Homo sapiens: one gene and its partners. The protein of the gene in region 1 purifies or fractionates together with the protein of each later gene. This does not show direct contact. Each region holds a gene or a part of one and is shown on either strand. Other genes may lie near its edges.

Region 1 (3,500 bases):
CCTCAAGTGATCCTCCTGCCTCTGCCTCCAAAGCGCTGAGATTACAGGTGTGAGCCACCACTCCCAGCCAGTTGTCTTTAGGAGAATCCAAAGGTTTCCCTGCCAGAGTGGTAATCAGTGCTCCTGGCCCATGCAGAATTGAGTTGTCCAGGCCCGGCCCACAGCAGAGGCTCAGGTCACGGGTGGTCCAAGCTGCAGGAGGGGCAGATGACTGGCTTCCATTTGGGTGTTGGACATGGTTGTATGGAGGAGAGGGCGTGTTTGGTGTAGGCCAAGCTTGTCCAACCCATGGCTGCATGTGGCCCAGGATGGCTTTGAATGCAGCCCAACACAAATTTGTAAACTTTCCTAAAACATTATGAGGTTTTCTTGTGAATTTTTTTTTTTTTTTTGAGACTAAGTCTCGCTCTGTTGCCCAGGCTGGAGTGCAGTGGTGCAATTTCGGCTCACTGCAAGCTCCGCCTCCTGGGTTCATGCCATTCTACTGCCTCAGCCTCCTGCGTAGCTGGGACTACAGGCACCCGCCACCACACCTGGCTAATTTTTTGTATTTTTAGTAGAGACGGGGTTTCACTGGTTAGGCAGGATGGTCTCGATCTGACCTTGTGATCTGCCCGCCTTGGCCTCCCAAAGTGCTGGGATTACAGGCGTGAGCCACCATGCCCACCCGTGAATTTTTTAAAGCTCATCAGCTATCATTAGTGTTAGTGTTAGTGTTAGTGTTAGTGTTAGTGTTAGTGTATTTTATGTGTGGCCCAAGACAATTCTAGTGTGGCCCAGGGAAGCCAAAAGATTGGACACCCCTGGTCTAGGCCATGGGGAATAGCCTTTCACACGGAGGCAAAGAGGACTGAGCCAGAGCTGAGAGGCTGCAGGTCTAGGTCAAAGGGCCAAAACATGCGGCTGGGACTTTGGGGTTCATGTCCTTCCTTTAATTTAGGCAGCTCAGGGATGAGAGGAGGAAGGTCTTTTGGTAAATAAGACGTGAGAGTTTGTGTCTGGGCTACAAATCGGCCGAACTGACAGGATGTCTGCTTGCCGAGAGAGTGGCCAGTGGCTGGTGGGGGCTGAGGAGCTGAGACCTGCCCACTGTCCTTCGCGCTGGACTGGGTTTTACCGCTGGTCAGAGTGGTGGCCCTGAAGTTTGCTCCTGCATGGAGTGCAGACCATTAGCTCTTAAAGCTTCTTTGGGCTTTTCCCTTCATAGGAGTCCCAGCTCTTGATACTACAAGCTTTGGGGTGAAAGTAAAGGTCACAGATGACCACAGACATTTGTCTCGGATTTCCATCTGCACTGCCTGTGGTGTGGAATGTAGACCTGATAACAGAATCTGTTTACTGACTGCCTGCAGGTCAGGCTGACATAAAGTCACTTCTCCTCCTCTTGGGCACACCAGCCAGGCTGGATCAGGCGCTGCTACCGGCAGCTGACAGCACACCTGCTCCCCGTGTTTCCCAGGCCTGCAGTCCTCATTCCCTCTGCTCTGTGGCCCCCTGGCCCCTCTTTCTGTCATCTGCGCAGGCGATCCTTCATCTTGCCTCAAGGCGTTTGCATCTGCTATTCCCTCTCTCTGGAATGCTCTTTCCAAACCCTTCATCCTCTGGTGAATCCCTACACCTTTTCATATCAGCTGGGGCATCACTTCCTCAGGGAAGCCTTTCCTGACAAACTGGCCCAGCATCTCTGTTACCACTGGTGGAGATGGACACCTTTTCCATTTAGCCGTTTATAATTTTCTCTTTGCGGGGTTGATTGATGGTCTGTCTTCCCCAACCACCTAGACTAGGTCCACAAGGGCAGAGACTGTGCCTGTTTTATTCATCCTTGTTTGCCAGGCTGCAGCTGGCACTCAGGTGCTCAACAATCATCTGTTGAGGGAAGAGTAGCATGGGCCACATTATGAGAGGCAGTAGGGAGCTATGGCAGGTTCTTGAGGAGTGACACCTTTAGATGATCTGGCTGCTTACACAGGGAGTGCTTGGAGCTGGGTTCTAGCTCCGAGACAGTCTCTGTGATATGGGCATGAAGTGATCAAGAGGAACCTGGCCTGAGGTTGTTTCAGGAAGAGTAGAAAGGGCTGGGGGTGAAAGGAATATGTGGGGTAGCTGTTTGGACAGGTGAGGGTCTAGGTGGGAGAGGAAGCAGGGGGAAGAAGCAGGCATAGTGTCTGCAACCGTCAGGTTGAGGCCACCTTCAGGGAGCCAGGACAGCAGCAGTGGGAGTGCCTGGTGGGCAGAGCCTGGTGGGCTGTGGCTGTGTCAGTTGAGTCAAAACCCATCACTTTGCAGGAAACCCTCCAAGCCACGTGAGACCCCACATTTAGGTACAGTCAAAAAGAAGACCAGCTCTGGGGCTGGGGCACCATGAGATTCTGTCTGCTGAGCTACTGTGTGCTGTCTTGGGACCAAGATAAATAAAACCGAGCCCCACCCTCCAGGTCAGCTCAACTGCAGCTGGGCACCCAGGCACACAGAAAATTAGGACATAGTGTGACACACTCGTGGAAGTCAGGTGGCACCCACAGCGGTGGGATGAATCACCTCCACTGGGCTGGGAATAAAGGACAGGAGGAAGAGGGCGCCTGTGCCTCCTTTTGTCTTTTCCCTCCTCTGTTCCAACAGGCCTGGAGGAAGCAGCTGGGTGCAGCCTCTCTGACTGGCTGTACACTGCGTGGACCAGTGTCCTGCCCCCACCCTTTGCACAGGCCCTGTCTCCCACCACCATCTTCACAGCTTCCTGGCCCCCTCTCTGCCTTCTCAGAGTCCCACTTCCCTGATTCTTTGTTTTACTTTATTTTTTCTTGAGGTGGAGTCCCGCTTTGTCACCCAGGCTGGAGTGTAATGGCATGATCTTGGCTCACTGCAGCTTCCGCCATCTGGGCTCAAGCAATTCTGCCTCAGCCTCCCAAGTAGCTGGGATTACAGGTGCACACCACCAAGCCTGGCTAATTTTTTTGTATTTTTGTATTTTTAGTAGAGACAGGGTTTCACCATGTTGGCCAGGCTGGTCTCGAACTCCTGGCCTCTAGTGATCCACCCACCTTGGCCCCCCAAAGTGCTGGGATTACAGGTGTGAGCCACCATGCCCTCCCCCCCACTTCCCTGATTCTGGTAACCTGGTCTCCCAGAACAGGTGGCAACGGGACCCCAGCCCTGGTGGTACCCTGACTGCCCTCACCAGTGAGTGGGCCCAGGCAGGCAGCTCTGGGCCCTGGGGAGAGATTTGGGGCACAGGTCTGATGCAGGAGTGAGGGAATGTTGTGGGACCAACAATGGTGCCATTGTCCCTGTGCTTGTTTCTAGATGAGGAAACTGAGAGGGAGAGAGGTAAAACAACTGGTCAGACCCCCATGGAGAACAGGCGTCTGAATCAGACCATGGGCTCCAAAGCCACCATTTTGTCCTATGATTGCCACACCATGGGCTCCGGGAGGGTCGAGGAGCTCTGTCTTTCCTGCTCCCTGCTGGGTTCCCAGCCCCTGAAATCTGGGCTCCTGGCA
Region 2 (3,500 bases), on another chromosome or scaffold:
TGCTTAATAGCTCTATTACTGACCCTTACCTAATTTTGCCTAATATCCTTTGTAATCTTATCTTTCCAATAATATACAACATATGAATTGAACAGAGTAGCTTATCACTAAATATCAAATAAAATAGAGTAATACTTTCAACTTAATCTGTTAGCATCTGAAATCACTAATACATTAAATTTCAAAAATGGTAACAAGTTTGACCAAATGCCATTAAAGGATTAAAACAACCCAGCTTAAGTTCAGTCTGTGAGTCAGTGTGCAATTGATTTATCTTCTTTGAATTAAAAGCCAAAAAAGCTTGAGGTGAGTTCTAGTCTTTGAATTCTCCTTTCTTGTGCCAGAAGCATAGCAGGTAAGCCAACATTTGAAGACTCTGTGAGTCCTAGATAACATAGGTTATTACTTCAGATTAACAGTCAGTACTAGGTGGGCATGGTGTGGGTGGTGGATTTTTAGTAATTTCTTTTCAGTAGCAAAAATGTTAGCATTGATTACTTCTGTTTTCATATGATTTCTCCACATTTCCCAAGGTCATGTTTCTTTCGTGCTTTGTGGTATATGCTTGAGACAGAAGTCTAAAGACCAAAATGCAGTTCCTCAGTATTTCAAGGGATCTTTGAGAGAGATTATTTTACCAAAACAGTGATCTGCATGCAGTTACCACAGTCACTCACCTGATAATCTTGGGAAGTCTTGGCCTGAGGATTTAATCCACTTGGTCTTGTCAAATCTACAAGTAACTCAGCAACATTTGTGATATCAATTTCAGCTAAAGGAGAAGATGCAGGGGCATTGGCCAGTGTTTGCAGGGTTGGAAGAAAAGCTTCTTCAAAGCATTCCTGATTAGTCCTATTGAGAAACAAATTCAAAGTATGTTGGCAGAACATTATTTGATGAGAGAAAAAGTATGAAATTCAAAACTACTATGTAGGAAATTCACTCATTAAGTGCATTTTCATCTAGGAAAGAGCCAAAAATTCAGATAGATAAAATCTGTATCGTTCTTGTCATTTCATCATTTATCTACTAAAGACAGAAAAAGTATCAACAACAAAATATCATTATAGATATAATTCATGGGGGACTTGAATTTGATGTCAAGTCAGATTTTTGATTTATCAGTATGACTCAATACCTGCTTGCATAAGCAAACACGGGGAAGAACACGCCTAGGCAATGTCGAAGTTGAACATCCTCTTCAGTCACAGGATTGTACCATAACAAAATAAGACGAGAAAGAATCCTGCTGCTGACCAAAAGCCCAGAGAACATCAGCTTGGCTAGTCCTTCTGCAGCTCCAGTCCTAAGTTCAGATACCTAACAAAGATGACATTCATTAGAAGAAATTTATTTGTATCTCCTTTTTAAGCCTCTCAATGTAGCCTGTCCTACAGTATTTTTACACGAACCATCCAAAAACCATTCGAGTTATTACAAATTCTTTAAAGGCAAATAAAAAGACTGTTTCTTCAAAGCTAGAATAACAATTTTAGACAAATCTAAAAGACTAGGAGACTAGACAAATGCTTAGTCTAGCCATGAAAAATTCAATTATCTTAAAACTTTTTAGAAGAACCAAAAGGCCTTTTATAACTGTTGGAAAAAAAGAGCAAAACATATATTTAAATGCTTAGGGTTTCTAAGACATAGAAAACCCTGGCCCCTGGTATTAGAGGAAGGTGCCTATCTATAAGCAAAAGCTCCATATGTAGGAGTGCAATTTGTCTGAATAATGGATAGAATGTGAACAGAAGGTGTTGAAGCAGAAGGCATTCCTAGAAAAAGTAAACAAAAGTCTAGAGAAGACAAAGGAAAAGACAACTGGATGTACACAGGCAAAACAATGAAGCTGGACCTTAGACCATATACAAATATTAACTGAAAATGCATCAACAGCCTAAATATAAAAGCTAAAGCCAGAAAACTCTCAGAAGAAAACAGGGATAAATCTTCATGACTTAGACTTAGCACTGGATTCTTAGATAGGACACCAAAAGCAGAAGCAACAAAAGAAAAAAATGAGTGTATCTCCAAAATTAAAAATGTTTAATACATCTAAGTATATTAACAAGAAAGTAAAAAGACAACCTGTAAAATAAAAGTTACAAATTATACCTGATAAGGATCTACTACCCAAACTATATAAAGAACTCTATAAAGACAACCAACCCAACTTAAAAATGGGCAAAGGACTTGAACAGACATTTATCCAAACAAAATATACAAATGGCCAAGAAGCAGATGAAAAGATACTCAACATCACTAGTCATTAAGGAAATGCAAATCAAAACCACAATGAAGTAGCACTTCATATATACTAGGATAGCTATAATGTTTTAAAAAATGGAACCTAAGTGTCAATAAGGATGTGGAGAAATGGAAAACCTTCTACACTGAAGATGGAAATTTAAAATGGTTCAATCACTGTGGAAAACAGTTTGTCAAGTTCCCAAAAAGTTAAATGACTGAGCAACACAATTCCTAGGTATACAGATACCCAAAAGAATTGAAACAGCTACTCAAACAAATACATATACATGCCATGTTCATAGTAAGCAGCACTATTCACAATAGCCAAAAGGTAGAAACAGCCCAACTGTCCTTCAATGGATGAATGCATAAACAAATCACCATATATACATAAAATGGAGTATTCGGCTACAAAAAGGAACGGAGTACTGATACAAGATACCATGTGGATGAATCTCGAAAATGTTATGCTAAATTTAAAAAGCTAAACAGAGGTCACATACTGTATGATTCCACTTACACAAAATATCCAGAACAGTTAAATCCATAGAAACAGACTGCGGATTGGTTGCTGTCAGGGCTGGCAGAAGGGGGAATGAGGAGCAACTGCTTAATGAGTAGTTTCCTTTTGGGATGATGACAATGTTTTAAATTAGATGATAAAGGTGGTAGTTGCCTTTCATTTTGAATGTACTAAATGCCAATGAATTGTTCACATTAACAGTATTAGTTTGGGCCAGGCACGAGGGCTCACACTTGTAATCCCAGCACTCTGGGAGGCTGAGGCAGGAGGATCACTTGAGGCCAGGAGTTCAAGACCAGCCTGGGCAACAGAGCGAGACCCTGTCTCTACAAAAAATTTAAAAATCAGCGGGCATGGTGGCACATGCCTGTCATTCCAGCTATTCAGGAGGATTGCTTGAACCCAGCAGGTGAGGGGTCAGTGGACTATGATCACGCCACTGCACTCCAGCCTGATGACAGAGCAAGACCCTATCTCAAAAAAATAAAATTAAGTTTTGTTATATCACTTCTAACTCAATGAAAAACTACAATCAGTATAAAAAATTTTTAATCAGTTGGTTTACATGTGTGCTACAAAAATAGTAGTTCAAGAGTACTTAAAAGAGATCCAATCCCATACCCTATCTTACATCTTCTACCCACCCAATATAAAATTATTCTAAACTATTTCTTAAAAGTCTTGGGGATAAATCTTAGAGTCTCTATATCACAAATACAACATA
Region 3 (3,500 bases), on another chromosome or scaffold:
TTTTTCCTCCTGGTATTTTACAGCATCAATTTTATAAGTACTTGTTTTATAATTATTGTGATTATCAATTATGAAAAAGTAATTTTACAGCAACAAACCTATTTTTTGCATGATTTAGGTAGAAAACCTAAGCCAAAAGACTTCACAGACAAGGAAACTGAGGCTCAGGGAGGTAAAAGTGATTTGTATAATGTTAAATAGCCAGCTAATAGCAGATCAAGGCAACCTCTCAAGTTTTCTGACTGTCAGCTAAGTGGTACTTATACCATTTGGTGAATTCCTTTTTTTCCAGAGAAGGGTTTCTTACTTGTGTCTGGTAGGCAGGTCTTGGAATGCAACATAAAAATCCTTGGCAAGAGGGATCTCTTTACGGTCTTTGACGAATGTTTTCAAGGCCCGACACAGGTAAGGGTAAACTCTGAAAAACAAAAAAGTCAGCTGATACCTTAGAGGTTTACCAAGGCCTCCTTCCCTTTACATACCTACCAACAGCCGAGATTAAGGAATTTCATCTGGTTACAACTAAACCTTAGAACTTAACTGTGTAGGACACTTCTATTATCTACTCTAGGTTTAGGACCCTCTTTCAGTTCTCTCCTATCCCACCGGAACACTAAATATAAAATGTCATACCATACCTGATTATCATATAGCACATAAATAATCATACAGCACCCACACTGTTGGCCATTCCTCTGTCCAAGATGACTAGCTGAACAATCATCTTGTCAATATTATGCTCAATACTGTGAATTTTCTGTGGGCTGTTTATGACTTAGTAAGTCATGTGTCAAGTCAGTCAATTTCTTTGGTTTCATTCTGAGACAAGGTCTCACTCTGTCACCCAGACTGGAGTGCAGTGGCACGATCACAGCTCACTGCAGCCTCAATCTACCTAGGCTCAGGTGATCCTCCCATCTCAGCTTGCTGAGTAGCTGGCACTACAGGCATGCACCACCATGCCCAGCTAATTTTTGTGGGGTTTTTTTTGTAGAAATGGGATTTCACCATGTTGTCCAGGCTGGTCTCAAACTCCTGGGCTCAAGTGATCTATCCACCTCAGCCTCCCAAAGTGTTAGGATTACAGGTGTGAGCCACCACATCTGGCTGGTTTGATAAGAAATGGATGAGGACAGGAGAAGTATTTGTGCACTAATGTGAGAACAAATTGGCAAAAATGCTCCATTTGACTGGTGAGAGTGAAGTATGCATGTCCTTTTGATATGTTTCTAATACCTACTCCAGCTTAGTTTGTTTAAGAAGTGGGGTCTGAAACCCTCTAAAAAAGGCGCTACTCTCAGGAAAGAGAACTGCTGCCTGGCTTGTGCATGAGGCATGGCACAGCTGCTTCTACCACCAGGCTTGATTGTCTACCTCTCCCTTATTTGTCAGTGCTATAACTTCTACTGCTGCATGCTTTCACAATAAATCCTGTTGCTTACTTACCCCCTCCAATTATTCTTGATCATCAGCTATGACCAGAAACACAGACAAATCCTCCATCTCCTAATCTACTAAGAAATGAACGAGACTGTGCCTCCTTATCCCTGGGTTTTCATTTATCTTTCACAACTGTCCACAATTTATTTTAACCTGATTCTATTTCTATAGACTGTCACATTTATTTAATCCTAATACAAAGTCTTGTGTGCAAAGATGTTTCTTGCTATATATAACAAGTCAAAACAAAATAAAAGCCTTCTATTAAATATAATGTCTAACCATAGTATTTCTACCAAAAAACCACAATTGGAGCTATTAGTATGAGTTTAAGAAATTTTATATGAATTTGAGTAATTTCATACACAGCATACACACAAAGACATCAAAATGTGACAGAAGATCCTTACAAAACTCTGCACTTGCAGACTTGGAAGGCTCCTGGAACTCTGTTGTAGCAGATCTGCTAATGACGGTGGTGGATTACAAGTGTATAAGCAATTTAATTCTCCTTACTCTTCTCCATTTTCTACAATATATACCTATTACTTTTATAAGCGAAAACAAAATTAAACTTTAAGGGAACAAGAAGTACAACAACGTCAATGCTGTAAAGATATCCCCAGTACAAGAAAAGGACCCACACAAACACCTATTCCTGTGGGGAAAAAGGATCAATGGAATGACACAAAAGTAAGTAAGTACAGTTTTCCTCTTGGGAAAACTATATAGAAAGCAAAGATTTTCAACATTTGTATTTGAAAAAAAAAGTTCAGCTCTGGCCGGGCACGGTGGCTCACGCCTGTAATCCCAGCATTTTGGGAGGCCGAGGCGGGCGGATCACCTGAGATCAGGAGTTCGAGACCAGCCTGACCAACATGGTGACACCCCGTCTCTATTAAAAAATGTAAATAATTAGCCGGGCGTGATGGTGGGCGCCTGTAATCCCAGCTATTCGGGAGGCTGACGCAGAAGAATCGCTTGAACCCGGGAGGCAGAGGTTGCAGTGAGCCAAGATCGCGCCACTGCATTTCGGCCTAGGTGTGACAGAGCAAGACTCCGTCTCAAAAAACAAACAAACAAACAAACAAACAAAACACAACAACAAAAAAACGTTCGGCTCTACAAAGGCCTACATGAAGTTCAGAGCAGTACTAAAACGACCACTGGCAGTATCAAAGCGCCTCTTCTCAGTGGGAAATAACTGTGAAAGCTGACCTTCTGCTACACAAGTGAACACTTACAGTCCAAGAAGAGCTGGCTTCCCGGATTTCAACCCCTATTCAAAGTAAAGAAGATTAATATGCCCATACCTATAGAACTCCTCTTGAATGGTGGTGGAAAGTTGCTGGTTAAATTGTTCCAGGTCCACAAAACTCACAACCAATGTGTTTCTCTCAGGACGAATCAGTTCCTCTGCTAATTGCAAGTATTTAATTTCTCCATCGCTGCTCTGAAACCTGCAGGTACATTCGAGTCAACTAGATTAAGGACACAGGCAGTACAAAGAACCTGAATGATAATTCAGAACATTGGTTAAAGTCCAACAACTAGGCTCAGACAGGCCCATGTTTGGCAGTTCTGTAACTTGGGGCAAGTTACTCCTCCCTTCTGATATGGTTTGGCTGTGTCCCCACCCAAATCTCGACTTGAATTTCCACATGTTGTGGGAGGCACCTGGTGGGAGTTAATTGAAGCATGGGGACAAGTCTTTCCCCTGCTGTTCTCTGATAGTAAGTCTCACGAGATCTGATGGTTTTAAAAAGAGGAGTTCCTCTGCACAAGCTCTCTTTGCCTGATGCCATCCACGTAAGACATCAGTGACTTGCTCCTCCTTGCCTTCCACCATGATTGTGAGGTTTAACTGCTAACTAACAAAAAAACCCAACAACTAACTCTTCTTTTACTACTGTCATGTATAATTAAGATTGGAAAATGTTAAATCAAGAAATTCAGTCTCAAACCCAATGATTCCATTTCTGTAGGGAATTTGCAAACTAACAAATTAGTCAGGGATTTAAGAAGCAGAACAGAAATAAGAATACATGGAAATGAGGTGT
Region 4 (2,178 bases), on another chromosome or scaffold:
GAAGCCAAAAATCAGAACCCTACATTTAAAGTTCATAATAAAAGATCCACCCGAGTATAACCAATAATATTTGGTTTAGATATTTTATAGCTTTTCTACCTTTTTAGGAAATTTAGAGTGTTTTATTAAGTTGACCAGAAGTGTGGTATTATCAATATTATTTTGAAACTATTCAAAAATTCCTACTGGTTAAAAAGCTTTTTTTTTTTTTTAAATTGTGCTGAGGCTATGCCATTTTCTCCCTCTCTGAAGAAAGTATGTACCTTTTAGATACAGATTAACAGTAACAAATGGCCACTGAGCACTGCTTTTTTTCCTTTATGGAAACTTCTCATGTTCATGCAGACTAGCTACAACAGCTTCTTAAAAAAAGATACTTTTTGGCCACCAAACTACCTCTTTGGCATCCAAGGTAATGCAGGAAAACTTTGACCCAAAGTATTCCCATATATTATTTGCATTAAGCATGTCACTTATGAAATGAGAAGTGATCTCAAGGATTTTAGTGCTGAATCCTCAACTAAAATTTTATTTCCTTGTGCTGAATAGAACACATACAGATCCATATTAAAAACAGTCATCATATTAGGCAAATTCAATCTGTCAATGTAGTTTTAGTCCAGAACCAAACCAGTGATAGTTAGGAATTACAGAGTTACCAACCAAACTGATTTGCTTTCCTGGTGGTTCTTTGTGTAACAGATGAGAGAAATAAAGTGGCAGAGTACCAGTGAACATTTGGAGAAAATACCTAATTATTTTCTTCCTAACCCAAGTTAGCCACTGAATAGTCATCTCAGAATAGTCACCTCATCCCAGTTGGCCCATTAGGTTCCTGTGTGCTTCATCTTCTGTGAGAAAAAAAAACCTTATATCATTCCTTATTTCAGATGTAAGATGCCAGGTGAGTTATTTTCCACAAATTTCTTAAGCTCATTACTGGAAAAAAAAATTTCTCAAAACTTTTAGTAATGAATGAGTGTACAAGCAGCAATTGGATATTAATCCCATGGTGCAAGGATTTCCTGCAAAGTACCTTTAATGTGTTTAAATCAGCAGCAAGCATTAGGACATGCTATTTTGGCCCCATAAGTTAGGTGTGTAGCACTACACATTAGACACCAAGTCATCCCAACCAATATTTATCCATATGAACAGATAAACTGAACAAAAACATAGTTCTGATAAAACCTGCATTCACAACCTAATGTAGTTTAAAGTAAATTTTTTCACAATTGAGGGCTGCTATTTAGGACTGTTTTGTTAATAATAAAAACAGGAATTATATAGAAGATAAAACACCATTTTTTACTGCTATATAATGTCTTGCTATATAAAACATACCCTCAACAAGTCAAAATATTTAAAACCAGTGTTTCAAATACCAAAAATCACAGCTATGTTACTGTTCAGTAACTCCACTCAAATAAATGTTAGTACTGCATTCTTGAAGGAAAAAAACTGCAGCCAAGGCAAGAACTCTGAAGTTTGCACTCAGAGTTTAAAAGACAGACCCCTACTCTGCAAACTGAAGACTGCCACTCTGCTTCAATAACTCCAGCCTGCCACATTTTACTTCAATTGGTAAAGCACTCTGCTGAGAATATAAAAAGTTATAAAAAGGCAATCATAAAAGATTAAATATTGGTAGGCATGTAAGCTTCCTTTTAATAAAAACAAAAATAGTCAATGTCATCTATTTAAATAAGTATCCTTTGTTATAGAGTGTTCCAGTTATTGAAAAAGGGCCCTTAAAAAACCCAACTGTCTACATCTTTAAACCCTACCCCTTTTACCCCATAGTACACATTTGAGGGAAGAGTCATTTAATGTGCAAATTGGCAAAACAAATGTGGAGGAGAGGGGACTTCTTGAAATGATGTGCCCAATCAATTCTTGGTTTATTCTTTTCCAAAAAGTAAAATAACCAAAGTCTTAAAAGTACACAAAACAGACCTTCATCTTTGCATTCCTTTCCAAATAAACCCAAAAAGTATGTACAGCATGTTTAATAGTATGCAATATGCAAAAGCTTTGTGTTGCTGTTAGCAACATCTATACCCACCCACCCTCTTTATTCACAAGTGTACCTCTACTAACCATAATTACATCACTAAGCCTGTTAGTTTGAGAGGGTCTTAAATTTGTTAAAACTGGAAAATCTTTGTATAGGGGCTC
Region 5 (3,500 bases), on another chromosome or scaffold:
AGTTGACGTTGAAAATACTGTTGAAATTAAAACATAAGCATTTTAAAGTGGCTATATTTTGGGAATGAACTGCCTTCCATGAATTCACAAATGGTTCCAAATTTTCACTGTCACTTGTACAATTTTGAATGCACAAGTTATCCCCGTTTTAAATTAGGAATTGAGCAATTCACTGGTGGTTGGCAGTGTGTTAAGCACTTGGCTATATACATTCTACCATATAACCTGGCAGAGGTCCATACGAAATTAGGTCTTATTTTTCCAATTTTATAGACAGAGATCATTGAAGCACAGAAAGATTTAAAGATTAAAGAGTTTTCCTAGTTTCACAGAGATAGTTAATGATGCATGGGAACTAAAACCTGTGTCTTTGTATTGTCAGACCTGTTCTTTAATATATAGACAGCTGGGTGTTTCAGTAGTTTTCTTTAAAAGAGCCTTTTCTTTTTTTTTCTTTTTTTTTTTTGAGACAGGGTCTCCGTCTCCGTCACCCAGGCTGGAGTGCAGTGGTACCATCTTGGCTCACTGCAACCTCTGCCTCCTGGGTTCAAGGAGCTGGGATTACAGGCATGCACCACCACGCCCTGCTAATTTTTGTATTTTTAGTAGAGATGGGGTTTCACCATGTTGGCCAGGCTGGTCTCAAACTCCTGAGCTTAAGCAATGCACCCACCTAGGCCTCCCAAAGTGCTGGGATTACAGGTGTGAGCCATCTCGCCCAGCCCTGTTTTGGTTTTAGAAGTTGACTTCTCGCCGGGCACAGTGGCTCACGCCTGTAATCCCAGCTTTTTGGGAGTTGAAACAGGCGGATCACCTGAGGTCAGGAGTTCGAGACCAGCCTGGCCAACATGGCGAAACCCCTTCTCTACTAAAAATTAAAAACTTAGCCAGGACTGGCGGCAGGGGCGCCTTATAATCCCAGCTATAAGGGAGGCTGAGGCATTAGAATCACTTGAACTCGGGAGGCAGAGGTTGCAGTGAGCCAAGATTATGCCACTGCACTTTAGCCTGGGAGACAGAGTAGACACTGTCTGGGGAAAAAAAAAAAATATCTGGTCATGGTTGCATGTGCCTGTAGTCCCAGGTACTTGGGAGGCTGAGGTGGGAGGATCACATGAGCCAGGGAAGTCGAGGCTGCAGTGAGCTATGATTGTGCCACTGCACTCCAGCCTGGGCAACAGTGAGGCCCTGTCTCCAAAAATAAAAAGGTTTTATAAATTGATTTTCTATTGATTTTCTAAGTATTCCATGTCTATAAACCTGTAATTATTAGGCCTCTTCTCAAATCTGATACACAGTCAAATTGTGACTATGCCAGAGGTTCTGCTTTTACTCTGTTGTCCTGAATATGTTTTGAAACTTGTGCACTTGAAGGCAGTCTTGACTTAGTACTTTTGTATCCAATTTCTTCTTCAGAATAAATGTTTATAACCTTATTTTTTATGGGAGTCCAAAAGGTTAGTGCTGGTTTGTGAATTCTGTTTGTTTTTTGACTTAACCTAAATACTTTTCCTCTGCACTTTTCATTTGAATTAATTCATGAACTAAATGTGATGTACTGGATCTTAAGAAACATTGAATTTGGGCTGACTCTCTTGTTTGTGGCGGAGGGTAGGTGAAGAAATAACTCGAGAAGCCAAAAAAGCACGAAAAGTAGGTGGCCTTACTGGTAGCAGTTCTGACGACAGTGGAAGTGAATCTGATGCCTCTGATAATGAAGAAAGTGACTATGAGAGCTCTAAAAACATGAGTTCTGGAGATGATGACGATTTCAACCCATTTTTAGATGAGTCTAATGAGGATGATGAAAATGGTAAGTTCAGTATATTAAATATACACGAAAGCATATAATATTTCAGTATATTTGAAAATGGGATATGAAACCTTTTCTTCTGTACAGTACAAATGATCACACAGATTATAATCTTTGCTTGGTGGAAAGCTCCAGGCTTATCTACCTTCTGGAAGTTTGAGCCTCATATATGTGAGAAGATAACCTCAATTTTGTGCAGTTATTTTTAACTTGAAAACATGGATTTGTACCCCATGGTGTATGGATGAACCAATGTAGGTGGTGATAAGTTATCAGTTAACAATATAAAAAATTTCATCCAGGCGCGGTGGCTCATGCCTGTAATCCCAGCAATTTGGGAGGCTAAGGTGGGTGGATCACCTGAGGCTGGGAGTTCGAGATCAGCCTGACCAACGTGGAAAAACCCCATCTCTACTAAAAATACAAAATTAGCCAGGTGTGGTGGCACATACCTGTAATCCCAGCTACTCAGGAGGCTGAGGCAGGAGAATCGCTTGAACCCAGGAGGTGGAGATTGCAGTAAGCTGAGATTGCGCCATTGCACTCCAGCCTGGGCTACAACAGCGAAACATTGTCTCAAAAAAATAAAATTTCAAAGGTTGTTTCCTTTGAAGATTCTGTACTTGTTTTAACAAATGATTTGACATGTATCTTTCCTTAACACTCAGATCCCTGGTTAATTAGAAAAGACCACAAGAAAAACAAAGAGAAAAAAAAGAAGAAAAGTATAGATCCAGATTCTATTCAAAGTGCCTTATTAGCATCAGGTCTTGGATCAAAACGACCTAGTTTTTCATCTACACCAGTTATCTCACCTGCTCCTAACAGTACACCAGGTATCCATACAGAAACTTCCTTTTTGAAATACTGTTTTAAACAAAAATATTTAAACTTTGTACTAACTTTTAGCAAATGTTCTTTATCTAGCTAACAGTAACACCAACAGTAACAGTAGCCTTATAACAAGTCAGGATGCTGTGGAAAGGGCTCAGCAGATGAAGAAAGACCTGCTTGATAAGCTAGAAAAATTAGCTGAAGACCTCCCCCCTAATACCCTGGATGAACTTATCGATGAACTTGGTGGCCCTGAGAACGTTGCTGAGGTAAATAGGCCTGTATCTCTTGGTGACATTTTTGCCATTTGAACCCCTGTAAAATGAGTTGTATTTTGACTGTCTTCACATAATAATCTAAATTTCTTAGATCATAGAATTCTTGTTCTACTTTAGTTGCCATCCTACATCCAATGAACTGCTGCCTGCAGTATCTGAGTGTCTGTCCCAAGCCACTGGTCCTAGTTACTGCACTTATCACGCATCTTTTGTGATCGTGGCCATGTGTCAAGGTTTTTCCAGGGACTCTGTTGCAGTGTTCTGTATCCTTCAGTGTGTGGTGCAGCACAGCCTGTGCTCTTATCTCCCAAGTGTCTTCAAGGAAAGAGGCACTGAGTCCATCCACCGCAGTCAGATACCTTCATTGTAATGACATTGTTTGGCTTCTCAGATGACTGGCCGCAAGGGACGGGTTGTGAGCAATGATGATGGAAGCATATCTTATGAGTCAAGATCTGAACTTGATGTGCCTGTGGAAATACTAAACATCACAGAAAAACAACGATTTATGGATGGAGATAAGGTATGTTTTACTGAGATGCTTCTCAGTGAAAAGAACAATGCCTGTATATTTA
Region 6 (3,500 bases), on another chromosome or scaffold:
AAAAAAATTAGCTGGGTGTGGCGGCATGTGCCTGTTATCCCAGCAACTCAGGAGGCTGAGGCAGGAGAATTGCTTGAACCCAGGAGGTGAAGGTTGCAGTGATCCAAGATCGTGCCACCTCACTCCAGCCTGGTGACAGAGCAAGACTCCGTCTGAGAAAAAAAAAAAATCAGGAACTTCAAACTCTGACTCAGCCACTTATGTACTACTGTGTGACCTCAGGAAGATCACTCAACCTCTCTGCGCCACAATGTCCTCATCTGTAATATGTGAATGAACACAGTTCCTACCTCACAGGGAAGCTATGAATATTAGTTGAAATGAAATATACAATGAGCCTAGCCCAGAGTAAACATCTAATAAATGCTGACTGCCACGACTGTGGTAATGGTTATTACAAGTTGCCTCTGTGTCCTCACCGGCCCTTGTGCACAGTAAGTGCGTTGAGTTGAACTGAAATTCAACTGAGTTCAGTTGGACATAAAGAGCAGGGCTGGCTCTCAGCTGCTGCCCCGTCCCCGGCCAGGCCTCACCTCTCAGTGAACATCTTCACCTCGCTGACCAGCCGCCGGAACCCCACCACCTGCCTCCAGAGGAGGAGCAGGCGACTGTGCTCGTTGCTGAAGTAGGCGTTGAAGGACTGGAGGGAAGACATGCCGAGGGAAGGGTTGGTGTGAGAGCGGGTTTACTCCCTCCCACTGCTTCCCTCATCTCCGACCATCCTGGGAGGCACCGTCGTTCAGGGATTGGGTCTTCCTGTGGGTCTGTGCACAGAGCTGTGTTGCAGCGGCCATGCTCAGCCTCCCAAGCCTCATGGCTCCCTCCTGCACAGGGACCTGGGTTTCAAGTCCTCTTTTGGCTGCAAGAGGCAGCAACGAAGGGCAAAAATGCAAGGGACCTAGCTTTGCATCCCAGCTGCCAGTTGCATGACTGTGGGCAGGTTACTTAAACTCTCTTTATTTATTTACTTATTTGGAGACAGAGTCTTGCTTTGTTGCCCAGGATGGAGTGCAGTGGCACGATCTCTCAGCCTCCCAAAGTGCTGGGATTACAGGCGTGAGCCACTGCGACCGGCCTTAACCTCTCTTTAAAATGAGGAGAATGATAGCACCTACCACATGCAGTTATCATGAGGAATAAAGGTCAACGCACACCGTGCACGTGGTACATGCTACACACTGATAAAGACCAGCTATTGTGATGACGGCTATTTACTTCTGCTAACAGGCTCCCTTGGACAGTGCTCCCTCTCCCTCTCCAGGCTTCTGAGTCCTCCCTCCTCTGCAGTGCCCCTTCCTCTTGGGTCAGGCTGGCCTCCCTGCACCCCCATGCCCACCTCCTCCTCGCGCCTCCACGCCGCCTCCCGGTGCTCCAGCTCCTTGCGGCAGCGTGTCCAGTCATTGGTCACCTTTCGTATGTCCTCACTCAGAGCCTGGTTGGCCGAGCCTGCCTGGTCCAGCTGTTCTCGGAGCATGGCATTCACCTGGGCCAGGCTGGCACTCCTGAATGGGGCACAGGGGATCAGTAGGCGCTCGCGCAGGGGGCCATCCTGCCAGCCCTGGCCCTCCCTGCTGCGCCCTCACCTCTGCTGCTCCTCCTCCAGCCGGATGAGGGCGCTTTCCAGGTCTTGGCTGTGCTCTGTGTCCTGGGTGGGAGAGAGGTTAAAGCATCAGGTTGGGCAGGTGGAGGGCAGGGCCTGCCCCTGCCCCACACTGGCACCCACCCTCAGCCGCTGCTGCTCCAGCTCTCCGGATCTCTCCAGCAGCTGCTGCTCCAGCTCCGAGCACCTCTTCTTGTACTGGAGAATCTGGGGATGGGGAGCTGATGGTGAGCCCCAGGGGTTGGGGCGGGGCAAAGTGAACAGGTGGGAGGACAGGAGCAGGAGTGGGTGGTCCTGACCTTGCCCTGCAGCCGCTGCACAAGCTGGGCCTGCCGCTGCTGGCCCTCCTGGTAGGCCTGCAGCTTGCGCCGGTAGGAGGCCTGCTCCTCCTGCAGCTGCCTCCGCAACTCCACGCTCTGCCGTACCAGCCCCCTGGGCTCCTGCGTCTCCAGCTCCCCAGGCTCCAGCCGCAGAGCCTGCTCCAGCTGCAGGGAAGGGCCCTGGGTGAGAGTCCTGGGCCTCCTGGGAAGGCAGGCTCAGGCTTCTGTAGGGCGTGGCAGGCTGGGCCCAGACCCACAATGCCTTGTAGGCTGATAGCCTGGCGCCCTGGGGAGCAGCACATGTGGGCAAGCCCAGGGGCAGTGCACGTGTGTATGGGGTGATGCAGCCATGCACGGGCACGCAGACGGGGCATGCATGGACACATGCAGGTGAGCCCACAAACCCAAACCACGCAGGCAAAGCTCAAAGGTGCACCTGGGTCAACCTCAGGGGCCTCAGTACACCATGTGCCTCTCCTCCAGAACACTTAGCCCTGTCGTGGTTTCTGTTTATTACATTGATGCCTGTGTCTTCCCACCATGCCCCGACCCCAATGTGAGCTCAGGAAAGCCTGGATTTTTTGTTCCTCATTGTATCTTAGTACTAGAATGGTGGCTGTGGAATGGCATGGCTCACGCTCAGTAAATATTTGTTGCGATAGTGAATTAATGGGATGAGCTCATGGGAATACATTCAAAACAGAGGTGTCAATCTGTCTATGCATATCTGACCTTAAAGATATGCACACACATAACACATACAGGCAACCTCAAACATTCCCGGAGGACACGAAGGAACCCCCTCATATACACAGCATTAAGATTTGTAAGAGGTGCACACAGGTGTTGCCCTATACGGCGCCTGCATATTAATGCCCCCTTCTGGCTGGGTGCAGTGGCTCATGCCTGTGATCCCAGCACTTTTGGAGGTCAAGGCGGGTAGATCACTTGAAGTCAGGGGTTCAAGACCAGCCTGGCTAACGTGATGAAACCCCGTCTCTACTAAAAATACAAAAATTAGCTGGGCGTGGTGTCATGCACCTGTAATCCCAGTTACTCAAGAGGCTGACGCAGGAGAATCACTTGAACCTGGGAGGCGGAGGTTGCAGTGAGCCGAGATCGTGCCACTGCACTCCAGCCTGGGCGACAGAGCAAGACTCCATCTTTATTTATTTATTTTTTATTTTATTTTATTTATTTATTTTTTTGAGACAGAGTCTTGCACTGTCTCCTGGGCTGGAGTGCAATGGCTCGATCTCGGATCACTGCAACCTACACCTCCCGGGTTCAAATGATTCTCCTGCCTCAGTCTCCCAAGTAGCTGGGACTACAGGTGCACGCCACCACACCTGGCTAATTTTTTGTATTTTTAGTAGAGATGGGGTTTCACTATGTTGGCCAGGCTGGTCTCGAACTCCTGACCTCGTAATCCACCCGCCTCGGCCTCCCAAAGTGCTGGGATTACAGGTGTGAGCCACAGCATCCGGCCCAAGACTCCATCTTAAAAAAAAAAAGGTCCCCTCCATCCTCACTGCAGGAAAGCCTCTGTTGCTGCTGCCCTTCCTCCACCCCCAGGAAGC
Region 7 (3,435 bases), on another chromosome or scaffold:
TGTTCTCAGCCAGGCCAGAGACCAAAACCCACCTTTTCAAATGAGCCCCGTCCCCACCCCTGACCCCTACAGGAAACAGGTTTCTCACTTGCTCAACTGCTTCCAACGTTGAAAGAAATCCTGAGAAGCCATTTCTGTCGGCTGGAAGAATTTGTTGAGAGTGATGGGCAGCTGCACAGACACGTTCTGGAAGGTGCCCCCATACCTGCCAGCAGCAGCAGCAGCAGAAAGAGACAGTCAGCTACTCCTCTGAGAGCCCCAGGGACCGGGAAAGAGCCTGGAGTGAGAAGCGTCCCGATCTACTGCCACCCACCAGAGCGGGTCGGGGGGCCGAGCCTTCAGTCCCCACGGATCGTGTGTGGCTCAGTGTCCAGTGTCACCCACAGACAGGAGGACAGGCCAGGGCCGCATACTCAGGCAGGACGTCCCTGTGCCTCACTTCTCCCCATTCATCTGTTTCCCAGAACTCCAAGTCTGTGCAAATAGTGTGATGTTTTTTCTTTAAAAAGGCAAAGGCATTTGCACAAAGAATGAAACAAAAACTTGCATGTCTATGTCCCCGAATTCTACAGTATACAATCTTAAGTTCTCTGTCTTTTTAATGTTAGAAAGTGTGCTTTTCTCAACATTCCTAACCTTGCAGACACCCAGCAGGGGACGGGCTGACTGTATCCACGCTATTTGTAGTCACTGAAAAGTGAGAGTAATGAACAGTCGCAACAGGAAAATCCTATGCTTTTAAAAAATAAGCAAAGTGGTACGATCTGAGCTCAACTGAGCAAAAAACGCGCCCCCCAGGCCAGGGGGCCGAAGGAAACCAGCTGCCTGCACCCCACAGCTGTCGTCTGGTACCAAGCCGGGCAGGTGGCGCGGGGGCCCTGGCTGTCTGCCACCCCATGAGGTGGGCCCCATGGTGCCCAGAAAGATCCTAGCAAGGCCCCATGTGGGAGCTGCCACCTGCCGTCCCGGAGCCCAGGGCTCCGCCTCCCCTTGTTTCCTGCGCTCTGCAGAGCCGGGGGCAGCAATAGCTCAGGCCGCATCCATGCACCGTGAGCACCCGCACGCCCCGGGTCCCCTCAGGAAGGACACGGAGGCACAGTCATGGAGCCCAGGCACACAGCTCAGGCGCCCACACACCCCTTGGCCCGGGGCGCACAGGCGGCTCTTACCTGAACTGAATGTTGAGGACTGGCGCCTCCGTGAAGTCGGACACGCACTCTATGTTGACCACCTGCTGCACCTGCGCGCCCCCCTCCACGGTCGGGTCCACGGGCTTGGTCTGCAGGTTCAGGTGTGCGTGCGTTAAGGAATCCAGCTGAGCAAGTCCCAGTGGCAGAAGCGGAAACGGGCCGGGCTAGAGCCCCAGCAGGACCCGTGGAGGCGAGCACACTCACCACACTCTAGGACCACCAGCTACGGGTCGAGGGCAGCCACACCACCCGGCCCTGCCCTTCCACCCAGACAATCCTCAAAACACTGTCTGCTTCTCACGCTTCCAGAATGGCTCCTCCATTTTAAAAAGTCACTTAGATTATATACTACTTGTCTGTTTTCACTCTGAGCCTCGGCTCTGGGTCTTACACACACAATTTTTGTCACCGTTAGCAGAAACTGGTGCTTAGTAGGGCAGGAAAACTTTAAGAATCCCAGGAATAGCAGGCTCCTGAAACAGCGAGACACAGAAAAGAGCCTGCCCTGCTGGGACCAGGGTTGTTTTCATGCTGGAAAACAAGGGTTTGCCTACAGCCTCTCCTGAAGAAACAGTGACAGCAGCAAAGCTGGGTCCAGGAGGCAGCGGGGTGCAGGCCTCTCCTTCCCTCTGGGTCGTGTGCCGCCGGCCACTCAGCTGCTGGGCTCGCTGCCGCCTCGAGCCAAGTGGACCCCGAGGGAGAGACCCCTAAAGAAGGGCGCAGTAGGAGTCAGAGCTTCCACTCCAGATTCCAAACAAAGTCTTTAATACAGGTGCTCCTGCATGTGTATTTTTAATGACTGTTTTGAAACAGCTTGAACAGTCTGCATTAAAACATGTTCATGTTAAAATGAACAGACCAGCCAGTGGCAAGGAGGATGTTGCTTCACTCAGGTCGCTGACCATAAATCCCCAGGTGTCACCATCTCTGGTCAAGCTGGGGTCTTCACGCTAACTCTATTTGGCGGGCCTATCCTTAGAGGTAGAGACGTTAGCGTCTCCCTGTTTTAGCTGGGGAAGTTCTAGGAACGCTTCTGGCATTACGAAGGGAAAATCTTCAGTCTAAAAGCTCTGCCAGAAGCACACACAAGCTCGGCTGGGGTGCGCACCGCGCTCCAGTCCCCACTGGCGCCTCCCACACTCTGCAAGCAGCAGCTCTGTGAGGCTTCGGAGAGGAGGGGTTTAAAGATCACGTCACAGGAGAGTAAGAGCAGGTGAAAAGGAAAGGGACTCACACTGGCCAGATGGAAGGGGAGGAGGCATGTACACGGTATTTTTAGGTGCATGATCAAAAGCTGGCTCTCCAATATGGAAGACTGCCTGTTTTCCTTCTCCTGCCCAGCACCATAGGCAGATTACGACTGCCTGATTTTCATATAGCATCTGGAATTATCTCGCTATTTTAACAAAATAAGAAAACCAAAAAACTTCCTCAAAAGCCTCCTCTAAGCCCCACATTATGCTGTCTGCGGGCATGGGGCAATGAAGCCAAGGATATTAGGCTGAAGGTCGTCTGAACAGATTAGTGTTGGGGTAAAGTTTAGGAACTGCGTGGAGGTCTTATTACCATAAAAGATAAACATCCGACCTAGAAGGAACAAAAACAATTTTTTCACACACACCATTTCACACTTACCCTGAATATTTACCCTGAAAAACAAGAGCCCCCCACAATCTTCAGCTGAATTTAAGTTCACTGTTGTGATGTATGACTGTTGTTAAAATTAAGAACAAATTTTTTCCAGTTTTAGAACGAGCACACCAGTGCTGGTAACACGGGCCGGGTATCTCCTCCAGTCAGAGGTAACTTCCGCCCTCCAGCACCCTCCTCCCTCGGCCCCTCCTGCGCACCCACACGGGATGGGTGAGATCACACGCATATGCACGGGGAAGGACCCACAGAACGCCCCGTCTGCAGGCTGGGCTACAGCTGGAGGGGCCTGCCAAGCATCTTTTCCAGGGACGCCACAATCACACAGGCCTCTGCCGGCCCCGCCCCATGACTGCAACATGCAAACACACGCACCGGCCCCGGCTGCCTCCTGTCAGGGGACCCGGCTGGGCACGCGTCCAGCACAGCATCGGTGTTGCACACTAGCCCTCACTGCAGCGGCTCAGCCACGGCACAGGTGCACATTTAGGATGTGTCGCTGTTTTTATTTATATCACAGTAAAAAATCTTTGTGAACATCTGTATACCCCTTGAATTCAGAAAGGAAATCTCAAATATTTTGAAAACAGTAAAC

Evidence for each region.
Region 2: the proteins of EPS15L1 (region 1) and NCAPG fractionate together in Homo sapiens (co-fractionation; one large-scale study listed by BioGRID). This does not show direct contact.
Region 3: the proteins of EPS15L1 (region 1) and MCM6 purify together in Homo sapiens (affinity purification with mass spectrometry, with the first as the bait; one large-scale study listed by BioGRID). This does not show direct contact.
Region 4: the proteins of EPS15L1 (region 1) and IVNS1ABP purify together in Homo sapiens (affinity purification with mass spectrometry, with the first as the bait; one large-scale study listed by BioGRID). This does not show direct contact.
Region 5: the proteins of EPS15L1 (region 1) and SBNO1 purify together in Homo sapiens (affinity purification with mass spectrometry, with the first as the bait; one large-scale study listed by BioGRID). This does not show direct contact.
Region 6: the proteins of EPS15L1 (region 1) and CROCC purify together in Homo sapiens (affinity purification with mass spectrometry; one large-scale study listed by BioGRID and IntAct). This does not show direct contact.
Region 7: the proteins of EPS15L1 (region 1) and AP2A2 purify together in Homo sapiens (affinity purification with mass spectrometry; one large-scale study listed by BioGRID and IntAct). This does not show direct contact.

What each region holds. Positions count from the first base shown.
Region 1 is NC_000019.10:16,461,971-16,465,470, reverse strand, and holds part of EPS15L1 (epidermal growth factor receptor substrate 15-like 1), read left to right. Parts: intron 1-3,500.
Region 2 is NC_000004.12:17,834,979-17,838,478, reverse strand, and holds part of NCAPG (condensin complex subunit 3), read right to left. Parts: intron 1,321-3,500; coding exon 1,139-1,320; intron 853-1,138; coding exon 678-852; intron 1-677. UniProt on the Homo sapiens protein: Regulatory subunit of the condensin complex, a complex required for conversion of interphase chromatin into mitotic-like condense chromosomes.
Region 3 is NC_000002.12:135,869,944-135,873,443, forward strand, and holds part of MCM6 (DNA replication licensing factor MCM6), read right to left. Parts: intron 2,901-3,500; coding exon 2,754-2,900; intron 419-2,753; coding exon 308-418; intron 1-307. UniProt on the Homo sapiens protein: Acts as a component of the MCM2-7 complex (MCM complex) which is the replicative helicase essential for 'once per cell cycle' DNA replication initiation and elongation in eukaryotic cells.
Region 4 is NC_000001.11:185,295,888-185,298,065, forward strand, and holds the end of IVNS1ABP (influenza virus NS1A-binding protein), read right to left. Parts: coding exon 2,148-2,178; 3' UTR 501-2,147; downstream 1-500. UniProt on the Homo sapiens protein: Involved in many cell functions, including pre-mRNA splicing, the aryl hydrocarbon receptor (AHR) pathway, F-actin organization and protein ubiquitination.
Region 5 is NC_000012.12:123,319,848-123,323,347, reverse strand, and holds part of SBNO1 (protein strawberry notch homolog 1), read left to right. Parts: intron 1-1,615; coding exon 1,616-1,813; intron 1,814-2,481; coding exon 2,482-2,649; intron 2,650-2,740; coding exon 2,741-2,916; intron 2,917-3,316; coding exon 3,317-3,448; intron 3,449-3,500. UniProt on the Homo sapiens protein: Plays a crucial role in the regulation of neural stem cells (NSCs) proliferation. Enhances the phosphorylation of GSK3B through the PI3K-Akt signaling pathway, thereby upregulating the Wnt/beta-catenin signaling pathway and promoting the proliferation of NSCs.
Region 6 is NC_000001.11:16,928,431-16,931,930, reverse strand, and holds part of CROCC (rootletin), read right to left. Parts: intron 2,086-3,500; coding exon 1,900-2,085; intron 1,808-1,899; coding exon 1,724-1,807; intron 1,646-1,723; coding exon 1,584-1,645; intron 1,503-1,583; coding exon 1,337-1,502; intron 641-1,336; coding exon 534-640; intron 1-533. UniProt on the Homo sapiens protein: Major structural component of the ciliary rootlet, a cytoskeletal-like structure in ciliated cells which originates from the basal body at the proximal end of a cilium and extends proximally toward the cell nucleus.
Region 7 is NC_000011.10:1,005,870-1,009,304, reverse strand, and holds part of AP2A2 (AP-2 complex subunit alpha-2), read right to left. Parts: intron 2,778-3,435; coding exon 2,688-2,777; intron 1,294-2,687; coding exon 1,170-1,293; intron 206-1,169; coding exon 89-205; intron 1-88. UniProt on the Homo sapiens protein: Component of the adaptor protein complex 2 (AP-2). Adaptor protein complexes function in protein transport via transport vesicles in different membrane traffic pathways.